Homo sapiens: one gene and its partners. The protein of the gene in region 1 purifies or fractionates together with the protein of each later gene. This does not show direct contact. Each region holds a gene or a part of one and is shown in the gene's direction. Other genes may lie near its edges.

What was found. The genes of interacting proteins can lie anywhere in the genome.
Region 2: the proteins of MCEE (region 1) and FBXO21 purify together in Homo sapiens (co-immunoprecipitation; one large-scale study listed by IntAct). This does not show direct contact.
Region 3: the proteins of MCEE (region 1) and NFU1 purify together in Homo sapiens (co-immunoprecipitation; one large-scale study listed by IntAct). This does not show direct contact.
Region 4: the proteins of MCEE (region 1) and ZNF732 purify together in Homo sapiens (affinity purification with mass spectrometry; one large-scale study listed by BioGRID and IntAct). This does not show direct contact.

What each region holds. Positions count from the first base shown.
Region 1 is NC_000002.12:71,109,187-71,113,229, reverse strand, and holds the end of MCEE (methylmalonyl-CoA epimerase, mitochondrial precursor), read left to right. Parts: intron 1-2,371; coding exon of another isoform or gene 2,372-2,392; exon of another isoform or gene 2,393-2,467; intron 2,468-3,107; coding exon 3,108-3,260; 3' UTR 3,261-3,543; downstream 3,544-4,043. UniProt on the Homo sapiens protein: Methylmalonyl-CoA epimerase involved in propionyl-CoA metabolism.
Region 2 is NC_000012.12:117,180,471-117,183,970, reverse strand, and holds part of FBXO21 (F-box only protein 21), read left to right. Parts: intron 1-3,500. UniProt on the Homo sapiens protein: Substrate-recognition component of the SCF (SKP1-CUL1-F-box protein)-type E3 ubiquitin ligase complex.
Region 3 is NC_000002.12:69,399,436-69,402,935, reverse strand, and holds part of NFU1 (NFU1 iron-sulfur cluster scaffold homolog, mitochondrial), read left to right. Parts: intron 1-2,397; coding exon 2,398-2,572; intron 2,573-3,500. UniProt on the Homo sapiens protein: Iron-sulfur cluster scaffold protein which can assemble [4Fe-4S] clusters and deliver them to target proteins.
Region 4 is NC_000004.12:288,475-291,974, reverse strand, and holds part of ZNF732 (zinc finger protein 732), read left to right. Parts: intron 1-3,500. UniProt on the Homo sapiens protein: May be involved in transcriptional regulation.

The sequences.
Region 1 (4,043 bases):
TCCTCAGAGCATACTGACGTCTCCAGCTCTAATCCATTACCACATAGACCACACTAGCCTTTATCTTCTCATTCCAACAGTGAGAAACTTAGCTCCCACTATCAGCCATCCATCTACTTCGTTGTTCAATTTCGGTATGATGTGTGGTAGTTATATTTGTCTTCTAGGGCTGCTATAATAAATGATCACAAACTTAGTGGCTTAAAACAGAAATTATTCTTTTCACAGTTCTAGAAACTAGAATTCCAAAATCAAGAGGTAAAAAATATGGAAGAAAAAGAAAACAGAATAGAGCATAAGACAGATGTAGGACATGGTCAAAAGTTCTAGCAGAATATAGTTGGAGTCCCAGAAAAGGAAGAGAGAGAAAATAGAACAGAAGCAGTAATTGAAAAAATAGTTGACAAGGACACTACCAATCTGATGTAAAACATCACTCTATGGTTTCAAGAAAGTCAGCAACCCCAAGTAGGGCAAACAGAAAACTACACCAGGCCGGGCAACAGTGGCTCACGCCTGTAATCCCAGCATTGTGGGAGGCCAAGTCGGGCAGATCACTTGAGTTCAGGAGTTCGAGACCAGCCTGGCCAACATGGTGAAACCCAGTCTCTACTAAAAATACAAAAATTAGCCAGGCATGGTGGCACATGCCTATAATCCTAGCTACTCAGGAGGCTGAGGCAGGAGAATCGCTTGAACCCAGGAGGCAGAGGCTGCAGTAAGCCAAGATCATGCCATTGCACTCCAGCCTAGGTGACAGAGTGAGACTCTGTCTCAAAAAAAAAAAAAAAAAAAAGGCAGGTGCAGTGGCTCACGCCTGTAATCCCAGCACTTTGGGAGTCAGAGGCGGGCACATCACAAGGTCAAGAGATCGAGACCATCCTGGCCAACATGGTGAAACCCCTTCTCTACTAAAAATATAAAAATTAGCTGGGCATGGTGGCGTGTGCCTGTAGTCCCAGCTACTCTGGAGGCTGAGGCAGGAGAATTGCTTGAACCCTGGAGGCAGGGGTTGCAGTGAGCTGAGATCGCACTACTACACTCCAGCCTGGGTGACAGAGTGAGACTCTGTCTCAAAAGAAAGAAAACCACACCTAAGCACACCATAGTCAAACTGAAAATCAAAGATGACAAGAAAATCTTAAAAGCAATCAAAGTAAAAAAGACATATTATAGAATGACATGTAATGACACTTTTTAGTTGCTGACAGAAAAAACCTGCCAATTTAGAAATCTGATTCCGGCCAAGTTGGTGTAAAAGAGATCAGTTTATCCTCCCTGAAACAAACAAGCAACCTAGACAAAATACATGACATAATGGATTTCTGGCATTGGACATCAGGCAGCACAGGAATTGATTTCTGAGAGAGGGTAAACAAACAAGATGAGCCCTACAATTACCCAGTTTACTGGCTGTAGAGAGTTTCCAGACTGCAGTGCAGGAAGGGGGAATCCACGTGGAACTTAGTGGTCTCCCTGAGTTGCGGAGATAGGAGTTGGAAGTCTGAGGAGGCCATGGTGCTAGAGTTCACAGCTCTCTCCTGGAAAGGAGAGCTGCACAGAGAGTGAACTCTAAAGATCTGTAGTACCTTTCATGTCTTCATCGGAGCTTCGAGTATTGCACGCATGTTAGGAAGCTAGAATAGAACCCCTTGAAAGGATTAGAGGGAATAATCCACACACAGAGGTGGGGATAGTTTTTTCTTACTAGTCATAGTAATTTCCGTAACATTGGGAAGAGTACTCAGAAGGGCTTTGGCTTGGTAGTGAGGAAAATTAGTCCTAGACTAAAAGCTGCTCCAATCCCACCTAACGCAGCAGAAGAAAAGCTTAATAATATTGATATGAATTTAAAAATAAGATAAAATTGACAATGTCTGACATCAGTGAGGACCAATTTTCCTCACTAAGTGGGTCGAGCCGTTCCTGCCACGAGCTTCTAGTGCATGTTCTATTCTGAAAAAGATGAGAATTAACCAGCTACAGTGCAAGATGTCATGAAATGAGCTGTGTTCAGAATCTAGGCACGTGTGACTTTGACATATCTATGAGGTTTAAAAAAGAAATATCAGGAATACAAGTAGAATATGTGCCATATGAAGAAATCATAGCTTATTTATGTAACATTTAGTATCCTCATTAGCTGTTTGACTGGTTTTAGAATTCAGCATATAATCCTTGGCTCTTTGGAAATAAAATTGTATAAATACTAATATTTATTAGATCTGAATGGTAGGTACATGGGTGTTAAACTAGTCTCTGTGCTTTTGTGTGTTTTTTTTAATTAAACTAGTGATTTTAATTAAACTAGTGATTTATGACTGCCTAGGAATGTGGCCATTCATATCATACCTTTTCATCCATTTCTTAGGTTCCCAGTCTAAGTGGGTGACTTTCCAAGATAGAGGCAGATCATTTCTCCGTCAAGTATAGAGAGACACATCTGCTCCTCCTAGAGTGTCCATAAGTATGAAGAAAATAGAAATAACTTAGAAGAGGCTGCAAAAACATTAAAGTTTGAAATTTTTTTGGGTGGGGAATAACATTTTGATGGCAATTTAATAGTGATTTTCATGTGTGTCTTGATAATGTCAAAGGTAATAACCAGGTGTTTTGGCAGGGCAAGTTTTGGGGATCAGGGAAACACTCATATTTGCTAAGTACCTATTATGCCATAAACTGTACTGAAAGCTTTTTATCTGTTACCTCATTTTAATCTGTAGTCAATTTATGTGGTAGACCTCATTTGCCTGTTATAGATGAGGACCCAGGGTTCTCAGGAAAAAGCAATGTCTTCAATCTCACTAATAGTACTGCCAGAATAAACTATTATAAAGTATATCATACATGATTTAGATTATAAGAAGAAACATTTACTAATGGTGAAAATTCTGAGCATTGTGGTTGCTTACCTAGAAAAATTTAGTAACTTCTCTTACTTCTCTGAAAATTTTAAGCTTATTTTTTATGATGATTTAAGAATGGTCCTGCCCACAGGCAGAGGAGATAGACTGCATGAGCTCTCAAAGTTTTTTCTAAGTCTTATGATACTATAAGTTGGTATTTTTATGATCTCAAATGTGTTCAATTTATTTCCCTTTCTTAAGGTGGATAATATTAATGCAGCTGTGATGGATTTGAAAAAAAAGAAGATCCGCAGTCTAAGTGAAGAGGTCAAAATAGGAGCACATGGAAAACCAGTGATTTTTCTCCATCCTAAAGACTGTGGTGGAGTCCTTGTGGAACTGGAGCAAGCTTGATTTATATTTGCAAGCAACTAAATTAATTGACCTGAAAAAGCCTATCAAATACTATCAAAATGTACTATGACATTGAGTCCTTCACTGCTTCCATCATGTAAAAGTTCACAGTTAAAGACTGAATTACAGAAAGATTAAAATATATACATATATAAATACATAAATATGTATATTATTTAGATTAACAAACATATTTGTTAATTTGAATTTGAAGAAAATCTTGATTACTAATTACTTAGGGAACATTATTAAAATCATATAGAAATAAATTATTCCTCTTCTACAATGGGGTAATTGAATGTAATGTGTTAGCTGTGTACAAGGGTATGTGTGTGATGGATGGATACACAAAGGAGTTATGAAAGTATGACAATTTTGTGGCTAATATTTGGGGCAAAAGTTTCTAAGAATGTTTTGGAATACTTTTTTAGAGCAAGCTGTGTAAGATTAGGGAATTTTAATCTCAGAAGTTTTGCTCTTCAAAAACAACTCGTGGTCACAGTTTCCTCAGGGTCCAGGTGTTTTGGGTGCTAGGGCTAGATGTATAGGAAGTTTTGTGGAAAACCTGGTGCGTCATCTAGTAGGCATGTAGATGTCTGAATTATTTTTTTAAATCAGTAGTAATTTGTAGAGTTAGGTATCACGTAGATGCTAGAACACCACAACAGGTCCTAGGGGAATATACAAAATGAATAGAAATCCACTGCCAAGATGCTTATGGTTCATTTGGGGAGAGTACTGCTTGAAATAAATGTAAACACTTACAAAACAACATCTGAATGA
Region 2 (3,500 bases), on another chromosome or scaffold:
AAAAGATAATTTAATATATTTAAACTCAGAGGGAAAAAATGGATTTTTAAAGAAATGGTACTGGACATAACTGAATATCCAGCTGGAAGAAAGGAAAACGTGCATCATATGCAAACATTTTTCCAAAGGATGAAACAACTGAAATTTTTAAATGATCACAGTGAACATTCCTCAAGAAAATAGGAGACTTTGTATAGTCTAAGGGAGACCACCTTAACCAAGAAGGACAATGCGGAGACAGTGAAAGAGCAGACACTTCTATATGGCCAAGAGAGCATGAACGAAGTCAGTAGAACTCAAGAGATATTGAAAAATGTTCAAAGGTTAGGAGGATGACATTCACAGAAGAACAAATCCTAACATCTAACAATCACGGAAAACTTTTAATACACTATTCAAAAAGTGTTAAATAGGCCGGGTGCAGTGGCTCACGCCTGTAATCCCAGCACTTTGGGAGGCCAAGTCCTTGGATCATCTGAGGTCAGGAGTTCGACACCAGCCTGGCCAACATGATGAAACCCTGTCTCTACAAAAAATACAAAAATTAGCCAGACATGGTGGCAGGTGCCTGTAATCCCAGCTACTGGGGAGGCTGAGGCAGGATAATTGCTTGAACCTGGGAGGCGTGGGAGGCAGAGGTTGCAGTGAGCCGAGATCGCGCCATTGCATTCCAGCCTGGGTGACAAGAGTGAAACTCCGTCTCAAAAAAAAAAAAGTGTTAAACAGCAATGAGATACTGCCATTTTACATATCAGGTTCCCAAAAAAGATGAAAATGCATAGCTAGTAAAGACATATATTATAGTGTTTTTAGAAATAAATACGAATAGGTTACCCAACACACATATTTTGACCTTAAAAAAGGATTGTTTGTTTTAGAAACAGAGTCTCACTCTTGTCACCCAGGGTGGAATGCTGTGACGCAATCATAGCTCACTGCAGACTCAAACCCCTGGGCTCAAGTGACCCTCCTGCCTCAGCCTCCCGAGTAGTTAGGACTACAGGCACTTGCCACCACACCTGGCTAATTTTTTCTATTTTTTGTATAGATGGAGTCTTGCTTTGTTGCCCAGGCAGTTACTAAACTCCTGGCCTCAAGAGATCTTCCCAGCCAGGCATGGTGGCTCACGCCTGTAATCACAGCATTTTGAGAGGCCGAGGCGGGTTGATCACTTGAGGTCAGGAGTTCAAGACCAGCCTGTCCAACATGGTAAAACCCTGCCTCTACTAAAAATACAAAAATTAGCTGGGCATGGTGGCACACGCCTGTAATCCCGGCTACTCGGGAGGCTGAGACAGGAGAATTGCTTGAACCTGGGAGGCTGAGGTTGCAGTAAGCTGAGATTGCACCACTGCACTCCAGCCTGGGCGACAGACTCGGTCCAAAAAAAAAAAAAAAAAAAAAAAGATCCTCTTGCTGTGGCCTCCCAATGTGCTGGGATTACAGGTGTGAGCCACCACGCCCAGCCCTGTTTGTTTTTTTGAGACAGGGTTTCATCCTGTTGCCCAGGCTGGAGTACAGTGGTGCAATCATGGCTCACTGTAACCTTGAATCCTGTGTTCAGGGGATCCTCTGGCCTCAGCCTCCTGAGTAGCTAGGAATACAGGCATGTACCATCATGCCTGGCTAATTTTTATTTGGTAGAGACAGTGTCTCACTATGTTTCCCAGGCTGGTCTTGAACTCTTGACTTCAAGTGATCCTCCCACCTTGGCCTTCCAAAGTACTAGGACTATAAGTGTGAGCCAACAAACAAATAAGGTTGTTTTTAAATGATAGAATACCCCGCATTTAAAAATATTTTGGGATACCAGTTTTCATGGAAGACCCTGTTTGTTTTCATTCCTGGCAAATGCTTATGGTTTGGATATGGAAAGCATGGGAAGGAAAAAGTGTAGTTTCCATAAATGCCAAAGTATCAGCTTGAAATCAGTTTGTGTTTATGATGTGCTATGTGGTCTTAAAAACGAGTATGTCCTACAATAAAGATTAGAAACAGCATATTAAAAGGGCATACACTGGGCCAGGCACAGTGGCTCACACCTGTAATCCCATGACTTTGGGAGGCTGAGGTGGGCAGATCACCTGAGGTCAGGAGTTCGAGACCAGCCTGGCCAACATGGAGAAACGCCGTCTCTACTGAAAATACAAAAAATTAGCCGGGCATGGTGGCAGGCACCTGTAATCCCAGCTACTCAAGAGGCTGAAACAAGAGAATCGCTTGAACCTGGGAAGTGGAGGTTGCAGTGAGCTGACATTATGCCGCTGCACTCCAGCCTGGGTGGCAAAGTGAGACTCTGTCTCAGATAGATAGATAGCTAGATTAGATAGATAGATAGATAGATAGATAGATAGATAGATAGATAGATAGACTGTCTCAGATAGATAGATCGATCGATCGATAGACTGTCTCAGATAGATAGATAGATATAAATAGATAGATAGATAAATTCATACATTGTACCTGAGAAAAGTGTCACAGAATGACCAATACTGAGACATACTTTAGTAAAATTGCTGGATTTTAAAGACAGGAAAGTCCTTTGAGCATCCAAGCAAAAAAGGTAAAGTCATTTATAAGGAAAAGAAAATAAGAATATCATCAGACTTTTCAACAGAATTTTTTGTGCCAAAGGAAAAAATAGCTTAAGATACTCAATGATCTAAGGAAATGTCAACCAAGGATTTTTATATCCAGCCAAACTGACTTCCAGATACAAAGACTGCACAGAAACTTAACAACTTAACAAGAATTCAGTGACTTTTCAGTCCTTCCTGAGAGATCTCCTGGAAAATGAATTTCAAATGACCAAAAACCACTCCCCGCCCCAAAAAAAACAAAACAGAGAAACACTGATATAAGGACTGGCAGTGAGCACTAAACATGTATTTATTTTTAGATTTAAATTCAAATGAGGGCTCTAGGGGAGAAAATATTTCATGTGTAACGTCTGTAAGACATGTCAGTATAAATACAATGCATCTGTTTTAAAAAATGAATGGACAGTGGGGGAGAACATATGCAAAATATTTAGCTGTTTTCAGTAATCATAAAAGTGATGAGTAATCCCAGCACTTTGGGAGGCTGAGGTAGGCGGATCACAAGGTCAGGAGACTGAGACCATCCTGGCCAACATGGTGAAACCTCGTCTCTACTAAAAATACATAAAAAAAAAAAAATTAGCTTGGTGTGGTGATGCAGCCTGTAATCCCAGCTATTTGGGAGGCTGAGGCAGGAGACTAGGTTGAACCCGGGAGGCGGAGATTGCAGTGAGCTGAGATCGCACCACTGCACTCCAGCCTGGCGACAGAGCGAGACTCCGTCTCAAAAGAAAAAAAAAAGTGATGAAAACATTAGTCTTGTTATTCTGAGGGCTGGTGTGTGTGTATGAGAGAGAGATGTGGAATGAAGTAAATGAATAACGATGTGATATTCTAATTTTACCACCTGTGATATCCTGGAGAAGCAGAATTCTCCTGGAATAAAGAAGACATAGATAT
Region 3 (3,500 bases), 1.7 Mb from region 1:
CGGGTAGGCAATTTTTTTTTTTTTCCCCAACGGGACACAAGAAATCAGATAAAGACCGGGCGCGGTGGCTTACACCTGTAATCCCAGCACTTTGAGAGGCCGAGGTGAATGGATCATCTGAGGTTGGGAGTTCGAGACCACCCTGACCAACATGGAGAAACCTTGTGTCTACTAAAAAAATAAAAAATTAGCCACGCATGGTGGCGGGCACCTGTAATCCCAGCTACTCGGGAGGCTGAGGCAGGAGAATCCCTTGAACCCGGGAGGCGGAGGTTACAGTGAGCCGAGATCGAGCCATTGCACTCCAGCCTGGGCAACAAGAGCGAAACTCCGTCTTAAAAAATAAATATATGTATATATATATCAGATAAAAATCAAGGAAAATACATATAAATTGGACTACAGTAAAATTGTGACTGTCTCTTCATCAGAAGATGCCATTGGCTGGGCACAGTGGCTTGTGCCTGTAATTCCAGCTACTTAAAAGGCTGAGGCAGGGGAGGCTCCCTTGAGCTTAGGAGTTTTAGGTAGCAGTGAGTGAGCTGTGATCATGCCACTGTATTCCAGCCTATGTGACAAAGCGAGACTGTTGAAAAGTGCCATTTACAGTCAAAAGGCAGGGTACAGATTAGAAGATATTTACAGTGTTTATATGACAATACATAAATAACTTGTACAAATTGGTAAGAAAAAGACAATCAGACACTGGAGCAGGTACTTCGCAAAAGATGATCAAATAGTGGCTGGGCGCAGTGGCTGACACCCATAATCCCGGCACTTTGGGAGGCTGAGGTGAGCGGATCACCTGAGGTCAGGAGTTCAAGATCAGCTTGGCCAACATGGTGAAACATGGTCTCTACTAAAAATACAAAAAATTAGCTGGGGGTATTGGTGCATGCCTGTGATCCCAGCTATCTGGGAGTCTGAGGCAGGAGAATCACCTGTACCCGGGAGGCGGAAGTTGCAGTGAGCTGAGATCGTGCCATTGCACTCCAGCCTGGGCAACAGAGTGAGACTCTGTCTCCAAAAAAAAAAAAGGAAAAAAGATAATCAAGTAGCCACTAAACATGAAAAAATGCTTAACCTCATTAGTTATTGTGAATATTCAAACCATAATTAAATATTTGTACAAATCCAGTAGAATAGTTAAAACTATTAAGACTGACAACACCAATTGTTGGTGAGGATGTGGAGCAACAGAAACTCTCATACACTGCTGGTGGGAATGTAAGTTTATATAACTGGAAAACTATATGGCAGTATTTATTAAATCTCAACATATTCATACTCTTTATTCAGCAATTTCACTTTCAGGTATATTCCCAGTAGTAATATATATGCATACCAAAAGACATTTCTAAGAATCTTTATAACTGCACTATTTGTAAAAGCCAAAACCTAATGTTAACCTAAATGTCTATCAACAGTAGAATGGATAAATAAATTCTGGTATATTTGCTTAATGGAATACTATGCAGCAGTGAGAGTAAATGACCTAGTACTATACTCAGCAACATAGGTGAATCTCACAAAGAGCATAGGAAGCCAGATACAAAAGAGTAATTCTACGTGATTTATAAATAGAATTTATATTTGTAAATTATAAAGTTCAGAGACTGGCAAAACTCATCAGTGGTGATATGAATTAGGATAATGGCAGCATTTTTGTTGTGGGGAGTGATTGGAAGGAAGCCCAAAGGGGACTTCTGGAGGTTTGGTGTTGTTTCTTGGTTTGGGTGGTTATAAATGTGTGTTCACTTTGTGAAAACTTAGTGAACTGTGCATACATGATTTAAGCATTTTTCTGTATTAATGTTGTATTTCAATGAAAAGTTTACCTGAAAATGAAGCCAGCATGTGACAGTCTCCCTTTTCCTTCACTCAAAAGAAGTGACTGAGTATATTTTAGGTAATCACAATAATTATTAGGAAATTTGAAATCTTAAGTGCTGTAAAATATTGTTTTATTTAAAAAAAATTTCTTTAGAGACAGGGTCTCGCTGTGTCACCCAAGCTGGAGTGCACTGGTGTGATAATAGCTCACTGCAGCTTCCAACTCCTGGGCTCAAGCAGTCCTCCTACCTTGGCCTCTCAAATTGCTGGGAATATAGGTGTGAGCCACCATGCCCAGCCTTAAAAAGATATTAGCAAGCAAGATCAAATGCGGTAAGCGGAGGAAATATTTGTATGAGTGAATTTTGGTATTTTACCTGAGAGTAAAAAAAAAAAATTTAATTCTAAATAAAACTTAGCCACAGTTATTATTCTGTATTATAAAAGTAGCTCTAACTTTGTGAATTTTACTAATATAAAATTTAAGCTCTGAGCTGTATTAAATTTTTTCAATGAAAACTTGTATTTTAAAGAATATGTCATAAATATTCTTTGACCTCACAGGCCAACTGTGCAGGAAGATGGAGGGGATGTAATCTACAAAGGCTTTGAAGATGGCATTGTACAGCTGAAACTCCAGGGTTCTTGTACCAGCTGCCCTAGTTCAATCATTACTCTGAAAAATGGAATTCAGAACATGCTGCAGTTTTATATTCCGGAGGTAGAAGGCGTAGAACAGGTATGCCAATATTATATGACAGTCTAGATTTTTTTCATTTTTTCTTTTTCTTTGTAGATACAAAGGCTGGAAATAGATGTTAAGGCAAGTATTTGAAAAGAAGTTCATGACCTAGCTTTTTCTTCAAGGGCTGGATTTTTGTGTTGCAATTTTTATCAGACTTGAAGTCTCTTATTTTAGAAGTAACTTTGGGCTGGGCGCAGTGGCTCAAACCTATAATCCCAGCACTTTGGGAGGCTGAGGTGGGTGGATCACCTGAGGTTGGGAGTTCCAGACCAGCCTGACCAACATGGAGAAAACCCCGTCTCTACTAAAAATACAAAATTAGCTGGGCATGGTGGCAGACGCCTGTAATCCCAGCTACTTGGGAGGCTGAGGCAGGAGAATTGCTTGAACCTGGGAGGCGGAGGTTGCGGTGAGCCGAGATCGCGCCATTGCACTCCAGCCTGGGCAACAAAAGCGAAACTCCGTCAAAAAAAAAAAAAAATGAAGTAACTTTAGTGTTATGAGAACCTACTATGTGCCAGGCATTTTTGCTCATTTCATCTTCTAATGACACAGTGCATTAAGTCATTCCCATTTTGCACATAAGGCTACAGAGACTCAGAGGGCATATTGCTGCCCTGATTGCACAAAAATTATGAAAAAGGTTTAAAATGTAACACAGTGTTTTATAGATGAGATTTAGAAATCTTTAGTGGAAGAACTCTACTACATCATATTTACCAATTTTTTTTTTTTTTTTTTTGTAGAGACGGGGTCTTGCTATGTTGCCCAAGTTGGTCTTGAATTCCTGGCCTCAGGTGATCCTCCCAAAATGCTGGGATTAAGGATTAACACAACTGGCCTAATCTATGTATTCTTAAATATGCAAGCAAGAAGCCCATTAAGAAATCATAGTTTGTTGTTATACTGAGTAGAATTCTAG
Region 4 (3,500 bases), on another chromosome or scaffold:
GAGTGTAATTTCTGCATTGTGTGTTCTTGGTTCCCTTGCCAAAATTAGTTGACCTTGTATGCATGGATTTGTTTCTGGGCTATTCTGTTCCATTGGTTTTTTTATATCTGTATTTATGCACATACCATACTCTTTTGCTTACTATAACCTTTAAATAAAGTTTAAAATTAGAAGGTATGATGCCCCTCGCTTTGTTCTTTCTCAAGATGGCTTACGTTATTTAAAATTGTTTAAGGTTACACTTAAATTTTACAATTGTGTTTACTATTACTGTGAAAAACGCCACTAAAATTTTGATAGGGATCACATTTGAATCTACAAATCACTTTCGAAAATATACTTTGACAATATCTGTTATCCTGATGGAATCTGGTTTTATCTATTTGTGTCTGCTTCAGTTTCTGTCATCATTTAGTGTCTAAATTTATTGTTATACACTAGATTTTGTATCTTGTATTTAGTGTGTAAATTTTTTATTTCATTGGTTAAATTTATTTTGAATTAATTTCTTATTTTTATAGTATTGCAAATTGAATTTTTTTCTTTTTTTGGAAATTTTGTTACTTTATGGAAATGAAACATATTTGTATGTTGGGCTAGGTATATTGGTTCCTTTTTGTAATTCAGCACTTTCAGAGGCCAAGGCATGTGGATCACTTGAGCACAGGAGTTCGAGATGGGCCTGGGCCTTGTAGTGAGACCTTGCCTTATAAACACAAACCAAGAAACTACCTACAGATATTTGTATGTTGATTACGTATCCTGATACCTTAATGAGTGCCTTTATTAGTTCAGTTTTTGTTATTCCACTCTAGGGTTTCATATATATGCATGATCATATTATCTACAAACAGTAACATTTTTACTACTTTTGCAAGCAGGAGAGCTTTGTTCTCCTTTTCCTTGCCTAATTGTTCTGGTACATTTGGTAATATGTTAAGATAGAAGCTGTGGTCCTGGAAGCATGCTTGTAGATCTGGGCCTCAGCTGTGGTCCCTGAAGCAGCCCTGTGTCTGTATATTTTAAGGATTTAACAATGATTTACAGTTTGTATAATCTATTTTTTGGCAGGTAAACATCTCCTTTTGTTGGGTCCCCAGGCTGATGAGACTACCTCTGGGTTTGCAGAGAAGGGTTGTAGCTGGGTCACAAGGGTGCTGCTGGGTCTGCTGTGCATTGTGTCTTTGATGGTTGTGTTGCCAGAGATTTGGACAGTTATGGATTCTTCTGGGCCCTGAAAAGATTAGATTTCCTTGAGGACATTAATCTATATGGCAGGTTGTAGGCTAGGGTTTTGAAGTTTGTCTGTATATGATGGCCCAAATAACAGGTGTATGAATGGGTTTGGCTTCTGCTGACTACCTGGGAACAGTTTTTACAGGTCTCTCTGTGAGCCTCTGAATGTGTACGAATGGCCACAGACTGTGACTACATATGGCTAGAACTGAGTCACAGGGCTGCTTCAGGGACCACAGCTGAGGCCAGGATCTGCAGGGCTGCTTCAGGGACCACAGCTGAGGCCAGGATCTGCAGGCCTGCCTCCAGGGCCATTGCTGGCTGTGTCTTCCTGCAGGTCTCTTGATGGGAAGGACCACTTCTGGACTATAGCTGAGATTGAATTTGAGAGAGGTTACAGAACTATTTTTGGAATCCTCAGTAAGACCAAACTCTGTGCATAATTTCCTTGTCTGTAGCTATGTCTATGGGCTCTTGAGTTGGCCACCTGGTGAGGGCCTGCTTTTTCCAAGTAACCCCCCTTGATCTTTGACTCCACTGAGGTTTCACAACCCTAACTATAGGCAAGCAATTTTCTACTTATGTTTTGTAGGAGTTTACTAAGTAAAATACCTTATATAAGTGGAATCTTACACTGTCACTTCGTTAGTGTTTTATTTCACTTAAAATAATGGCTTTAAGATTTATCCATATTGTAGCATCTGACAAGATATTTTCATTTTGAGTCTAAATAATTTTTCATTGTATGTGTAAGCCACATCCTTTTAAATTATTCAACTGTTGAAGGATGTTTGAGTTTTTTCATGTTTTGGCTTTTGTAAATAATATGGCTTGGATCTGTGTCTGCAGTCAAATCTCACATCAAATTACAAGCCCTCATGGAGGTGGGCCTGGTGGGAGGTGATGGGATCGTAGGGTTGGCTTCTCATGAATCGTTTAGTACCATCCCCTTTGGTACTGTCTTTGCCATAGTGAGTGACTTCTCCTGAGATCTCATTTTCTTTCTTTTTATTTTTGATAGCTTATCCATTGCAGTTCAATCTAAAAGTGAAATTTCTACAGAAACACGAACTATTTTAACAAAGAAAAAAAATCCCTCATTCAAAATTCTTTGTAGTGGTAATGGCTGCAAATCTGCAGCATTTAGAAAACTATGCTAACAATAAGCTTGCTTTATGAACTGAGATGTACAAAATCTAGAAAGCAGGTGAAAGTGAATTATTTCTTCAACATTTTAGTAAAACTTCTGGTAATCAGAGTTCAAAGCAAATATGGCACATAACAATTCAAGCATAAATCAAGATGGAGAGCCTGGAGAGTTTGATTTCTTAAATTTTCCAAAAAGCTATCATTGCAACATGTAGGATTTCTCCCCTATTTTAACCTTACCAGTTTCAAAGGAAAGTAAAAGGAGTGGATTACATGTAGACAGCATGTGCGCGAGCGCACACACATGCAGGGTGGCAGGTAGAGTGTCTAATTCCTTCTTCCTACTACCCAAGTCTCACTTCACAGAAATCATTAGGTAAAGGAAAACCAATGAGGAGTTCTGCAGTTTTCTTTTAATAACTAAAGAGATCTCATTTTCTAAAAGCAGCTTCTTCCACACACTTGCTCCTGCTTCTACCATGTGAGATGACTCACTCTTGCTTGGCTTCCTGCCATGATTGGAAGCTTTTTGGGGCCTCCTGAGAAACAGAAGCTGCTATGCCTTCTGTACAGCCTGCAGATCCATGAGCGAATTAAATCTCTATTTAAAAATAAGATATCCAGTGTCAGGTATTTATAGCAATACGAGGATAAACTAATACAGTGAATATTGTTGCAATAACATGGATGTTTTGGGTTTCAAAACCCTGTTACATCACTGTGTTAGCCAGGATGGTCTCAATCTCCTGACCTCATGATCAGCCCACTTCCGCCTCCCAAAGTGCTGGGATTACAGACATGAGCCACTGCGCCCAGCCTACTTTTTGGAAAAATATTTTTAAAAATTCTTACATTTACATAGAATTTCAAGGACCATCATGGCCCAATCTTAGAAAATAAGAACAAAGCTAGAGGCACAACACTTCTTGTTTTTAGAACAGAATACAAAGCTACATAAATAAAAACAGTGAGGTATTTGCAGGAAAACAAATAGATGATAGAACAGAACAGAGAACTCAAAAACTAACCATCATGTATATGCTCAAATGATCTTCAACAAGGTTGCTATAACCATACAATAAGAAAAAGACAGTCTCTTTAATAAATGGTGTTGG